3 separate regions of the Homo sapiens genome follow, and all the other regions are reported to be linked to region 1. Evidence: microRNA targets listed by miRTarBase, many of them from high-throughput screens and not tested one by one. Region 1 holds a microRNA gene; each other region holds the end of a gene's coding sequence.
What was found. The annotated mature microRNA hsa-miR-1245b-3p reads UCAGAUGAUCUAAAGGCCUAUA and lies in region 1 at 2,899-2,920, shown strand. An mRNA with a match to its seed (bases 2 to 7 or 8) in the 3' UTR can be bound and repressed. Matches are read on the target gene's strand: a 7mer-m8 pairs with bases 2 to 8, a 7mer-A1 pairs with bases 2 to 7 and ends in A, and an 8mer does both.

Region 1 (4,355 bases):
TAATTTGGCTTGAATGAAAAGTGAATGTTTTTTCCTTTTCTCTTCTTACTAAATCCTTATCTGGGAAAAGATGTTGTATAATCTGAAAATCTAAGAATCACAGATATGATATATAAATTATCATAATTATTTTCATTACTTTAGAAAGCTGAATATTTTGTACATGTGGGTATTTGGCATTCATATAGTTTCCAATTGAAATAATGTTTGGTTTGCCTTTTAAATGATATTGTTTGGAAAACATAAATTTTAATAAAATATTTTTTCTGCTGCTTATGTATTTATCAGAGTATCTTAAAATATGTTAGATTACTTAACAAAAAGGACTCTGAAGAAAGTATCTGTAGACATTCTAGGTGAATAATTTTAATTTAAAAGCACTGTTTTGCATAGAAAATAAGATTTTATTTATTCTTGCTACCTCCAGGAAAAAAAGTTGATAAATTATCATTTGTAGATATTTTCTTGTTTCATATTTTATAGATATATGCTTTTTCAATCTCCTTAGAAATGTCCTTTAAGTTGATTAATCTTTTAGAATTCAATTAATCTTTTAGAATTGTCTAAAAGATTAATCTTTTAGAATTGTCTAAAAGATTAATCTTTTAGAATTGTCTAAAAGATTAATCTTTTAGAATTGTCTAAAAGATTAATCTTTTAGAATTCAATCTCCTTAGAAATGTCCTTTAAGTTGATTAATATTTTATCCTGTTAAAAATAAAAATAATTAGATAATTAGAAAATTTTAAGTATCATATATCTAACCACCAGCAATTGCATATATAATAAAATCTTCTTAGTGTCAAATTATAAAAACATTGAAGAGAATATATTCTACTTGTCTTATTACATTTGGCAAACAACTTTAAATTGTATAGTCTTATAAATAAAATTTTACATTTCACCATCCTTATCACTAAGTTACTAAGTACTTTAATTTCTTCCTTAGAGTAATTTTATTTGCCAGCGTTAGTAAAACTAGTGCTATAGTACCTCCTATCTTGTAGGGACTGCTCTGAGTAGTTTGAATATCTATTTTGCTTCATACTCCCAAAGGCCTTATGAGCTTACAGCTGTCATAATCCTAATTTTACAGATGAGGAATCTTAACTGCAGAAACATTAAGTAATTTTCCCAAGGTTACACAGTCAGGGTGAAAAAGAAGATCTGAGTGTAAGAAGGCTTTCTCTAAATTTGATACTCTTAATTACTGCATTCTATTTTCTTTCTGCTATTTCAAAACTGAGTACGATTAAAGAAGCCAACTCCAAAGCTCTGTCCCATATGATTTTTTATCCCTGCAAGGTTAAAATCTGAATCTAGATAGGTATATTTTGAAGGACAACAGTTCTTTGCAAAATATTTTTCTATCTGGCCTCAAAACAGGAAGATGCCATCTGGAGTTAAATTCTCCTGTTTATTTTCTCTTGACCTTATGAAGAAGGGTTATATCTCTAAAGCTACCCTGATGACATCCAGACCACCAACAGAATAAATGTGTGACTCAGAAACCCTGCATACATTTTGCTATATACAAAAAAGTAGGGTTCTAACAACAATAGTACCAGACAGAAAAGACTTCTGCATCCAATGCAAAAATATGTTTAAGATGTCTCATTAACACACTGTTTTTCAGAAAATATAGTTACTAAATGATTCATGTTAATATACATCTAAGTTCATCAGAAGTTTTCACTGAATGAAACTGGAACGTTGTGAACATGCTATGCAACTCCAAAGAGTATTTCTGTGATTTTAATTTACTTGAGAAATGCAGTCTCTGTCATCCTCCACACAAAATACTATAGAAAAACAGTTTCAGAAAAATATATGCCATTTTACTGAAGCAGTACTTTCTTAATACTAGAATTCAAGGGAAGTTTAACTTTTAATAATTTCTGGATCTTTTCTCTTTGATGTTTACATCTTTTGGGCATTTTGACTCGTCCTCTTTCAACGTTTCATTTTGTTCATTAAGACTACATTTTAAACAGCAGTGCTTGACCTCAGTCATGGAAAAAAACAAGGGTTTTATTAGTTAATCTGAAAGGAATCCACTTCTGCTGTGTTTTCATTAGACACAGACTGAAACTCTGGTGGTTAATGTAACTCCCCCAACTGCAGTTCACAAATGATTTATGTAAGAATAGCTATCTCATTTTTTCCGTTGTCATCTTGACATGAAACAGGCAAAGTTTCCCCTTTGAAAAGTCTGGAGAGTTTTTTTTTACACTATATGATCTTTTTTTTTTTTTTTTTTTTGAGTGTGGAAACAATGGGATTGAGCTTTTATCTTAGGGAAAACTTTTACAAGAAACAGTTCACTGAGAGGGTTCCAGAAAGTTATTGTAGACCTGGAAACTTTACAACTGTTCCTCATGTCCAGCAAAAGCAATAACATCTTTCATCTTTAAAGCTTTAATTCTTTAAGCAATCTACTTTAATCACTTCAAGGCGGTGATATCATTAGATGTTACAAAATTAAAGAGCTGGGCTACATAATTTTTGGAACTCTGCACCAAAGAAGCCATTCACAATGGAAACTGTGGAGTTTCGGTAGATGGCACTCTTTTCTCTGAGTGACAACTCAAGGTCCAGCATGTGACCGTAGATGTAGAACAGGGGCTTTCCTGAGGAGCTGTCCTTTAGCCTCAACTATAATCCTGGTAAACTCACAGCCAATCATTCTTGATTTTTAAAAAGAAGCCTGTAGATAAGACATCAATCCAGGAATCTGAAGTAGTTAAGAGGCATTTAATCACAGTCTTTCCTTCTTTCCCAGAATTGTTCCAGTGGATTTGCTTTCTTTTCTTGTAATGCTGAAATGTTTAATTCCAGAATTTAATAAAAATACCTTTTTATATGTAGGCCTTTAGATCACTTAAAGAGTATTCAACATCAGATGATCTAAAGGCCTATACATAAATAGGTAGTTTTGAAAATCCAAATTTTTCAAGGCTCTGTTATTACCTGAGCATTTTTCTTTCCCTAGAAAAAAAGCTCAGGTAAGTAAATACAAGGTATCATGGATGAAAAACACAAAGTGTTATAATACTTTATTTACTCACACAGAACTGGTGATAATTTCTTTTAAAATGATAAGATCCTGAGCTTCTGGGGTTTAAAAAAATTAACGTACTACTCTCTATAAAATTGAATATTAAACAGAAAAATACCTATTCTTTTTTCACCTTTAGAAATGCATTATTAGTTCATGTACTTTCTAGGACGATATATAATTTTTTTAGTATCTCCTTTCAATGACAAATAGTTACAAAATTAAGAAAATTCAAATATCTGATTTTAATGTGTATTCTATAATTATCTAAGACTGAACAGAATATTGGTCCTAGCCTTGACTCCGTCATTTTCTAGTTTTGTAATCTCAAATAAAGCACTGATCCATGTTAGGTGACTGACACTGAGATATGTGAGCAACTATGCATTCTCTCCCTTTAAAAGTGCAATTGTTCCTAAATGTATGTAACCTTTTCCTGTTAGTTCAGTGTGTTTAATTGTAGGGACAAACACAAACCAGAAAACTTGAATGTTACCTGAGCAAGTTACAAATTCCCTCTTAAAGCATAATGAAAAAAATATACTCTCATGACGTCTAATAAGAAACTGATTCTCTGAGTCCATTTACAGTTTTAAAATTCTAAAACAACTAGAGGCCTACAGTTTATTTTACTGGAATTATCACTGTAGCAAAATATAGAAACTCAAACATTAGTACACATTTAATTAAAATAAAGTTTCTGTTTCTGCCCTAATGGAGCAGTATTACTTAGTAACAGCTGTCTATAATCTATCTAACAATTAAGCAGTGAATAAAATACTTATGTCAAATAAGGACTACATCAGAGACATGAAAAATGTATTTAAACAATAGTCATATGTAGAATTTTTAAGTGGCCGTAACATTTAAGCTAATTTCCAAAAAGACTCTGAATATTGTTACCATTGTGTTTTCGTGTCAGTATATGTGTTTGCAATATTTATCCGTAACATACTAATTTCCTTAGGAGAGCAGTGTTAACATTTAAAATTCACGCATATGAATTTTTTAAAGCTCATTATAAACTACCAAAGCCAGCTACATAACATTAATATTGGCATTCGTTATGTAAATGGTAACCTGGCTTGTCAGCCACTAGGTGACGCATCTTTGTACTTAAAACTTGGCATGTTTATAATCTACAGGAAATATAAAACAGACTATGTTTCTCCATTGGTGGATTAAAACACATGAATTAAATACAATGTTCACAAATTTGTAAGACGACCAAAATTCTTTTTGAGGACTTGTTTGTATCCAGAAAATGCCTGTGAGTGAACTAGAAGTGAGTGTTCAT
Region 2 (4,000 bases), not on the chromosome of region 1:
AATATTAACGGACATGTGTATATAAACAGGTTAGTATGTACATGTATATTTTCTTGCTCTGTCAGCTTAGAGGCCTAGAAGTAACAATACTCCAGTAGCAATAAGCACAACTAGGGCTCAGAGTTTAGTTTCTAATACCATTCTCCAACAAAAGGAATCAGACTCCTTGGAGAAATGTCTGATTCTAGGACTGGGACAGGGAATATAAACGATGCGAATCTTTTCTAGTGCTCATCTTTTATAATGCTCACCTTTTAGACCACCTTCTAGTGCCAGAAAATAAGGAAGTACTCGGAAAAACATAAAAATCTGCACTGACGGGGTTATGTTAAAGGGATATGGGAGACAACAGAAAGAGCTCCCAATGTTGAAAGCTGGAACAATTAGAGCAACAAATTATTATTGGATTATAACTCAAAGTATAAAATAAATATCCATGAGTCTATACCGATAGAAATAAATAATTGAAAAAATAAATGGAAAAGAGATCATCTCCCATGCAGAATTCCAAATAATCTATGTAGACACTTTGCCCTCAAGGAGGTAGACTTATGTCCCCATTCCTTAAATGTGTGCTGCTCATAGTGACTTCCTTACAAAGACTGCAGTGTGGAAATCTGGGGGAGTCGTAAGCACAAAGCTGTCCCCAACTGACCCCTGCCAGGTTTGACCTCACTCCCAAATTCCCACGGCAGGATTTTCGTATGTGCGTCTCACACCTTGCATTTACCAATTATTTATTTTTGTGTTAGTCAACGCAACTAGATCGAACTCCTTAAAGACAGAATACACAGGGAGCCGAGCCCCTGCTTGTAAGTAACAAACCCCAAACTTGAGCTCAAGTCCTCTCAAGCCAAGTTCCTTGGAGCTTCTCTCTCATGAGTAGGCTTCTGTGTGAAGATACAGCCCTTCAAGAAAACAGCCTTCACCTAGAATGGCAAAAGGAATGAAAGAACACTTCATTCTCACATTGCTGTAAGGAAATACATGAGACTGGGTAATTTATAAAGAAAAGAGGTTAAATTGACTCACAGTTCCACATGACTGGGAAGGCCTCAGGAAGCTTACGATCATGGCAGAAGGCGAAGCGGAAGAACAGCACCTTCTTCACAGGGCAGTGGGAAGGAGAAGGACTGCCAGCAGGGGAAATGCCAGATACTTATAAAACATCAGATCTCGTGAGACTCACTCACGAGAACAGTACAGGGGAAACCGCCCCCATGATCCAATTACCACCACCTGGTCCTGCCCTTGACACGTGGGGATTATAAGGATTACAATTCAAGGCAAGATTTGGGTGGGGACACAGAGCCAAACCATATCAGATGGATTTTTGTAAAGATGTTAAAATATAATAAAATAAATAAGCTACCTTATTGCACACCAACATTTCATCAGACATTACAGACATAATATCTAGTATCTTCACTCTTTACAACGTCCCTACTGTAAAGTACGACATTAGGATCTTTGTTTTACAGATAAAGAGACTGAAGTTTAGAGTGGTAAAATGACTGCTAAAAAGTTGTAGAGCCACAGTTTAAACCTGGTCTATCTGATTCCAGAAACACAGGCTTTCCCCAACACATCTTGGCATTTTTTTGTGCAGTGAGTTTACAAAAGGTAAATCAGCAGTTAGTCTTTCTCTGTCTATTAACATAAGGAGTTATTATTAGGTTCAAATGCTAGATTTTGAGCAGCTTGGGCACCTCCTGCTGTTGCTAACAGCCTCTTCAATCAGGCTTCAGCCTATAATTTTAAGCCATTTTTTGAAATTTTTGCATGCAATCTACTTTCAACTATGCATAATTCTATCAGAGCCCCTGTAGAAGCAGGAAATTATCAGAAATGCAGACAATTACCTTAAAAAGGTAGAGAAGAACATAGATGTGGTGGACTTTACAGATTCAATTATATCTACTTGCCCAAGAACTTATGGCCCTTAAGTAGTGGAGCAGGATTTGAACTCCAGTCTGCTTATTCCCAAGACCATGCATGCTCCACTCTGCTGTCCTGTGTGTAAAAATCACTCCACTTTCTCTGTTCTCACTCGAGGCCCACTGGACCTTCTGATGGATGGGAAAACTGGCGCCATCATCTCTTCTCTCCTGCATTCAAACTGCTTACCTGCACCTTTCTACCAATGCAGTCATGCAGTCAAGTGGCAGCTGAAAACGGTGCACAGCTGCTGTCCCCTGGGAGAAGTGCAACCCCAGCGAAGGTACTTGTTGGGGTGCTGCATGCATGCTGATGGGAAACTGCAAATAAGACTTGGTCTTCTGGTTGCCCATGGAAAAGGGACATCCATGGCAGATAAGCATTTTAGTTAGAAGACTCAGGTTCAAATTGAGGATTCCTCCCATATAGGTGGTTTCATCATAGGCAAATTATTTAAACTCTGAGTCTCAGCTTCCTTGGCAGTAAAATGGGAATAGGGATACTCACCTTGCTGGGGTACTAGTGATCATTAAAAAGTAGGTTAAAGTTGTTGGAAGGGTCTAGCAGCAACTCTCATATGACAGATGTTTGATTTTTTATCAGTCATCGCTTTTTTCCCTTGCTGGTGAGAGGACTCTCATCCTAATCATCCCCTACTGTCAGAGAATACCCATTGTAATTGTATTATTTGCCCGGCTGACACCATGATGTGGCCCAGCCCCAGTGAGATATTACTGGCCTCAGGCACTGCTGTGTGGATGGGAAGGGTCAGCATTTACACAAGCTCTTGGTAAAACACAAGCACTTGTATGGAGTCTGTTTATAGGTAACTGTGTGAGGGCTGTTATGTGTCCATGGATCAAGGCCAGGAGAAAGGATAAGGTTTGTGGGCCATGAAGTGTGAATCCTGATTTTGCCATTTATGAGCTTTATGATCTTGTAAAAATCACTTCAGTTTTCCATACCATTGAATTTCCTCATTTGTAAAATGGGAAGATAACCCTGATTTGAACTGGTGACGGTAGACCCCAGGGGCTGACACATGTTTTGGCAACTGGAGCGATAGAGGGCGAATCTCTCTATTGAACACCACACAGGGAACAAAACGTAAGACGTAATTTCAAATAAATGCTTCCTACATAAAGCAAACATGGGTTTTGTAATAAACAGCTTTGTGCAAAACACATTTATTTTTTAAAATTCCCTTTATAAAAATAGAATATGTAACAAATACAAAACATAAGAGTAGAGAATCTGGCTGTCACCACACAGACCATAGCTTCTGCAGCAGAGGATGGGGTGTGGATTGCAGGGTGGGGGTCTCCTCCAGGGCCCTGGGGAGGTGGGGCTGAAAGAAGGAGTGTTTATGTCCTTGTGATATGGAAGAGAGTGGGCCATCTGGAAATTCATGAGACAAGATTAAACCGAGTCCCTGCAAGTTGGCATGCGCTACGGGGTCTGTGCCTTCTGCATGTGCAATTTATATTTGCGAGTTGTGCATTATAAACACACAAACACCGGCGGGCAGGAGAAAATCATCCCTTCTCTCTTCAGATGCTCCCGCAGGTCTTTCCCTTGGGCTAGTCCATGCCCAAGGCCCTCATGGCCTTTTTGGCATTCAAAAAGTTCTTCTTTTTCCTGGGAGGAACGTGCAGTGAGATCTCTGGCTCCTTTGGATTTCTGAATATAAAGAGCTTCTCTCCTGTGTTTAATAGATCAATGGTTTCTGCCCCTACAATGGGTACAGGGGCCAGTTCGCCAATGGGCTCCAGTGACAGGTGTGGCCAACTTCCTTTTCCAGAGAATATCATCCTCTCTCTGAGAGGGAGACATGTCTTCTTTAATATGCTAAAGAAATAGCAAAAGATCAAATTCAATATTTTTGGCAATGAACCCTCTGGAGTGTTCTGAGTTCTCCAAGAGAATCCCTCCTTGGGTCCTGAATTCCCCAACCCAGTGCCATTTTAACAAAAGGTTATTTTCCCCCTTGGTCACCAGATTGCTGTAAAATTAGCTGAAGCCTGTAACAGTGGTGTGCTGTAGTCAACTCTTCCTGGCTCAT
Region 3 (4,355 bases), not on the chromosome of region 1:
CACTTCTGTCCAGCAGAGTTTTAAAAACAAACCCTGCGGAGTTCCTGGCTTGCTGACCCCCATCCCTGGGTTCTCCCACCCCAACGGAGGCACATCTGAGTCAACGACATCCACAGCTGTCTTCTTCGGCACCATGCCGTGATGCCGCAGGAAAATGATGTGCTATGGAACCAGCTACCTACCTGCCAGCGGTTAACTGCTCTAAGCCTCCACTTATTTACTTGCAAAATGGGGATCTAACACCTACTTTACAGGATTGGGTGAAGATTAAAGGAGATCATGTATATCAGGCACTTTGTAAACTGGAATGTACTAGACAAATGCTATTATTCCTTTCTCTCAGAACATGAGCCCCCCCAATCTGCTCTCCTCTCCTCCCCTCCCCTCCCTTCCCTTTCCCTCCCCTCCCCTCTTCTTTTCTCTCTCTCTTTTTTTTTTTCTTTTCTTTCCTTTCCTTTGACAGAGTTTCGCTCTGTCGCCCAGGCTGGAATGAAGTGGCACAATCTTGGCTCACTGCAATCTCCGCCTCCCCGGTTCAAGCAATTTTCCTGCCTCAGCTTCCTGTGTAGCTGGGATTACAGGCGCCCACCATCACGCCTGGGTAATTTTTGTATTTTTAGTAGAGATGGGGTTTCACCCTGTTGGCCAGGCTGGTCTTGAACTCCTGACCTCAAGTGATCTGCCTGCCTCAGCCTCCCAAAGTGCTGCAATTACAGGTGTGAGCCACCATGCCCAGCTTGAACCACTTTTATTTTATTCCTTCTCTTCCCTAAAAAAAATTGAGGATAAGCTCTGCCTTTTTTCATCAACCATAATAAGTATGGTATCCATTCACTACTTGACTGCTGGAGAGCTCAGGACATTTGGACAGAATGCTTCAAACTGGGGCCAAAGTAGCCTGTCTCCTCAGAGAGCTGACTTCTGGGCATACGCATCTCTGTAGTGGGAGGCCACATGAAAGTGAACCTAACTCATGTACAGAGGTCATCGCCATGTCACTTCCTAGTAAATGCTCAATAAACTTGTAAACCACCCCCTCTCTTTAGAGCCCTACAGTTTTGTTCTTATTGTGGTGGTGGAGGTGGGGAGTTGGTTAGGTGGTCTTATCGTCACCCTGCAGCCCCACTTTCTCATCCTGACAACCCTCTTTCCCACACCGGGTCATACAGAGGGACTTTTGATGCTTCCAGCTAGATGGCAGGGGCATCCTGTGGCATCCTGCTGTGCAGGGCCTTGATCATCAGAAAGGGACTGGCTGGCAACCCCTAGCCACTCCTGTCGCTCTGGCCAGTAGTAGATTCTGCTTATCAAAATTAACTTGAGAAGTTGAACTGCTTCTGTGTATGTAGAAAACCCTCTTTGGAGAATTTTCCCCTAATACAAGTTTACATTCAAGTCTGAACTGGGTAGATTTTAAGTAAAATGAGTAGTATATCCATAAAAGTCTCCACTTATCTTCTGCTACAGTCATTTTTTGTTGAAGTACAAAATGGGACTTAGGGGACTTTCCCACGGGATGCCTCAGAATACCAACACATGCAAGGGTTTCTTATGGACATTTAAGATGTGAAGGGCAAGAGTGAAATGGGGAAAGGAATACAGAGTAACTCACAGAAACAAAACAGAGATCTCAGTAATCAAAATAGTTGCTTTGTTCCTAAGAAACCCTCTCTTTTGTTAATGGGTCTGATTTTTAAAAACTCTCAGAGGCCTCTAAAGCACTTGTTTACACATAGCCCTTCCCCATGTACAGCCAGGGTAAGGACACTGCAGAAGGCTGTAAAAGCTTGCACAAAGCCGGCCTCCAGATGATCCCTCTGACTTAAAACCTCTTAAATCATAACTGCTTAACAACATGACTTTCATACGTACACAAGTTTTGTTGTTCCTGTATTCATCCACACAAGGGGTTGATTAAGAAAAAATTCCCTCAGGTACAGTTCATCGGAGTTTCACTGAAGCCCGTGGAGGAGGCTCTGATGTTTCTATCCTGAGCTCTGTGAACTCTGCTTGTCCTTTGCAAGCCCATAGACAAACAGGCCATTCAAGTGCTCAATGGTCCCCACTGCTGTTCATGAGACCCACAGAGAAAGAGGGCCTGAGAGATGAGATGCAGGCTCCTCCAGGAATGAAGAGGGCTTCACAACCATCTTCACTCGTCATTGTCTGCCTCTGATCCATAATTCTGACATAGACACCTACTGCATCCTTTGATTTCTGCAATTCAGAACCAGAGGCCAAAGTGTAGTTTGCTTTTTCTTCATCTTGGCAATGGCATGACCAGTGGCCAGCTATCTAGTGGTGTCAATAAAAGAATAATAAAGAGAGAAAAAAATAAAAGGAACAGGAAAAGAACATCCTTATTTACACCATTTGATTGCTACCTACTAAAAGCACTTAGGAGAAAACAATGCACATAGTGAATCATCCAATCAGAAACACACAGCTTTATATTATTACAAAAAAGAAAAACACCTCACCTTGTCTTTGTTTCGCAGCACAGACAGAAATCATTTTAAGACAGAGGATCACATAGGCAGTTGTACACCCAGCTGACAAACACTTTGGGTCTGGATTTCCTCCCCCAACCACATTACATCAGCTTTGACACATCTGTAAAACATCTTCTCTGCAGAAAGTCAGACCCTAAAGATCAAACCCAGGGAGGCACCCTCTCCCCAGGCCAGCTACTCTAACTCATAACCCTCTGAAGACACTTGGTAAAGGCAACACAGCTGACGAGAGCAGTGCTGCCTCAGCAGTAGTGGGCTCTGGCCCCGCCAAGGCAGGGAGGACTAGGGCCGAGCTTCTGAGAAGCCATCCAGATAGGCAAGGGAGAAGGGGAGGGGGTGCAGTGGGGATAAAAGAACCTGATGAAATGGAAGAAAGCATTACCTTGGGAGTTACCATTTTGAATTATTATATAATCAGACTCTAGCCTGGCATCACGGAGACTCCAAGAGCCACGGACAATGGGAAAGAAGTGTACTTCTTGAATGCAATTCAAAGTTATCTGAACTTTTTTCACTGTTTCTAGATTCCACTTTGCTTGGGAAACTACAAGAACTTCTTTAATCAGCCATGGCCTTCCAAAAAGTAGAGTGATGTGGCAGGCAAGACAGGGACAAGCAGGCCCACCTGGTAAAGGATGGCTCTGACATTAGAACCTGTTGGCTGCCCTCTCCACTGCCAGGGAAGGAAGCTGGCCATGCAGGTGAAGAAAGGCACCAGCCCTGTTTCCTGCCTGAAGGGCAGCATCAAGGTCATAGTGTCCAAAGGCCCGGAAGAGGTCAGTCTCAGATGGGTGCTGGCAGAGTCCTAGCCAAGTGGCCAGGCTGAATCCTTCCTGAGCCACCTGCAGGAAGAGTCAGGAGGGCGAGGCTCTGGCCACTGCCTTGCAGCTCACAGCTGGTTCACACATGCATGCAAAGGGCAGGTAACTAAGTAACCAACCCCCAGAAAGCAGTTTCATCGTTTTTGTTTTTATTTTTCCCCTTTCAACCTGGTTTTCGGCTCTGGAAGCTGTTCCTGTGCACAGTTCTATTTCCTACAGTTCTGAGAAAGCGGTTCCATCGCAGATGACCAAAGGCTGGACCCCTCTGGCTATAACGTAGACCTTCCAGTGGGTGGTGTCGACATAGCCTTGAGGGGAAATAGCAAGAGGAAGGCATGTAAATGTCAGAGGGTGGGCACACCTGTGGGCACGAGCAAGGCAGGTCTGCCAGAGCTGGCCCTCAGGGTGCACTGCAGAGTCAAAGACAAATCTTTTTCTATTTAATTTAGTTTCCTTTTTTTTCTTTTTCTTTCCTTTTTTATTTTTTAAGAGATAGGGGTCTCACTATATTGCCCAGGCTGGTCTTGAACTCCTGGGCTCAAGTGATTCTCCTGCCTCAGCCTCCCAGAGTGCTGAGATTACAGGTGTGGGCCACTACACCTGGCTTAAAGACAAATTGCTCTGAAAGTCTTCTGGCACTTCCTAGCATAAGTATTCCTAGTTATTATCAGTCCTCTTTAAATGCTTTATCACCACCCCTCACCCAGGGAACTGTGAATCACAATTCAGCAGGCTTACAAAGGCAGGATGCTCTAGATGAGGCTGCTGTTGGGCATCAAGTCTCAGCTTTTACAGCAAGAAGACAGAATGGATTCCGAGGGGACACAAGACCTACTAGCCAATTTTCCTGTGTCTATCTATAATGTGGTTTCATTACAGAACATCCAGATTAACCTAAACCTAAACCAGCATTGCCCAAATTGGGTTTGGCAAACAGTAGTGTCCTGTAAGATATTCCAAAGAAAATAGGTTCCATGGCCAAGTAAGCCTGAGAAACACTAGGTTTCCCCAAGGCTTTTCA

Region 2: the mRNA of EVC2 is a reported target of hsa-miR-1245b-3p. Seed matches in the 3' UTR shown: 7mer-A1 at 3,489-3,495.
Region 3: the mRNA of C6orf89 is a reported target of hsa-miR-1245b-3p. Seed matches in the 3' UTR shown: 7mer-A1 at 3,297-3,303 and 7mer-m8 at 1,806-1,812.

What each region holds. Positions count from the first base shown.
Region 1 is chr2:188,976,664-188,981,018 of GRCh38, reverse strand. It overlaps MIR1245B (microRNA 1245b), which reads left to right and starts at 2,858; the gene lies at 2,858-2,926. The region is part of intron 1 of COL3A1 (collagen type III alpha 1 chain); the gene reads right to left. MIR1245A (microRNA 1245a) reads right to left here and starts at 2,927; the gene lies at 2,858-2,927. The region is part of intron 1 of LOC105373791 (a long non-coding RNA gene); the gene reads left to right.
Region 2 is chr4:5,559,330-5,563,329 of GRCh38, forward strand. It overlaps EVC2 (EvC ciliary complex subunit 2), which reads right to left. Exons shown (of 22, transcript NM_147127.5): 22 at 3,110-3,786. The coding sequence ends at 3,519. Among named protein-coding and RNA genes, the nearest start is that of LINC01587, 37 kb to the left of the region's middle.
Region 3 is chr6:36,922,634-36,926,988 of GRCh38, reverse strand. C6orf89 (chromosome 6 open reading frame 89) reads right to left here. Exons shown (of 9, transcript NM_001286635.2): 9 at 1-3,642. The coding sequence ends at 3,548. Among named protein-coding and RNA genes, the nearest start is that of PI16, 30 kb to the left of the region's middle.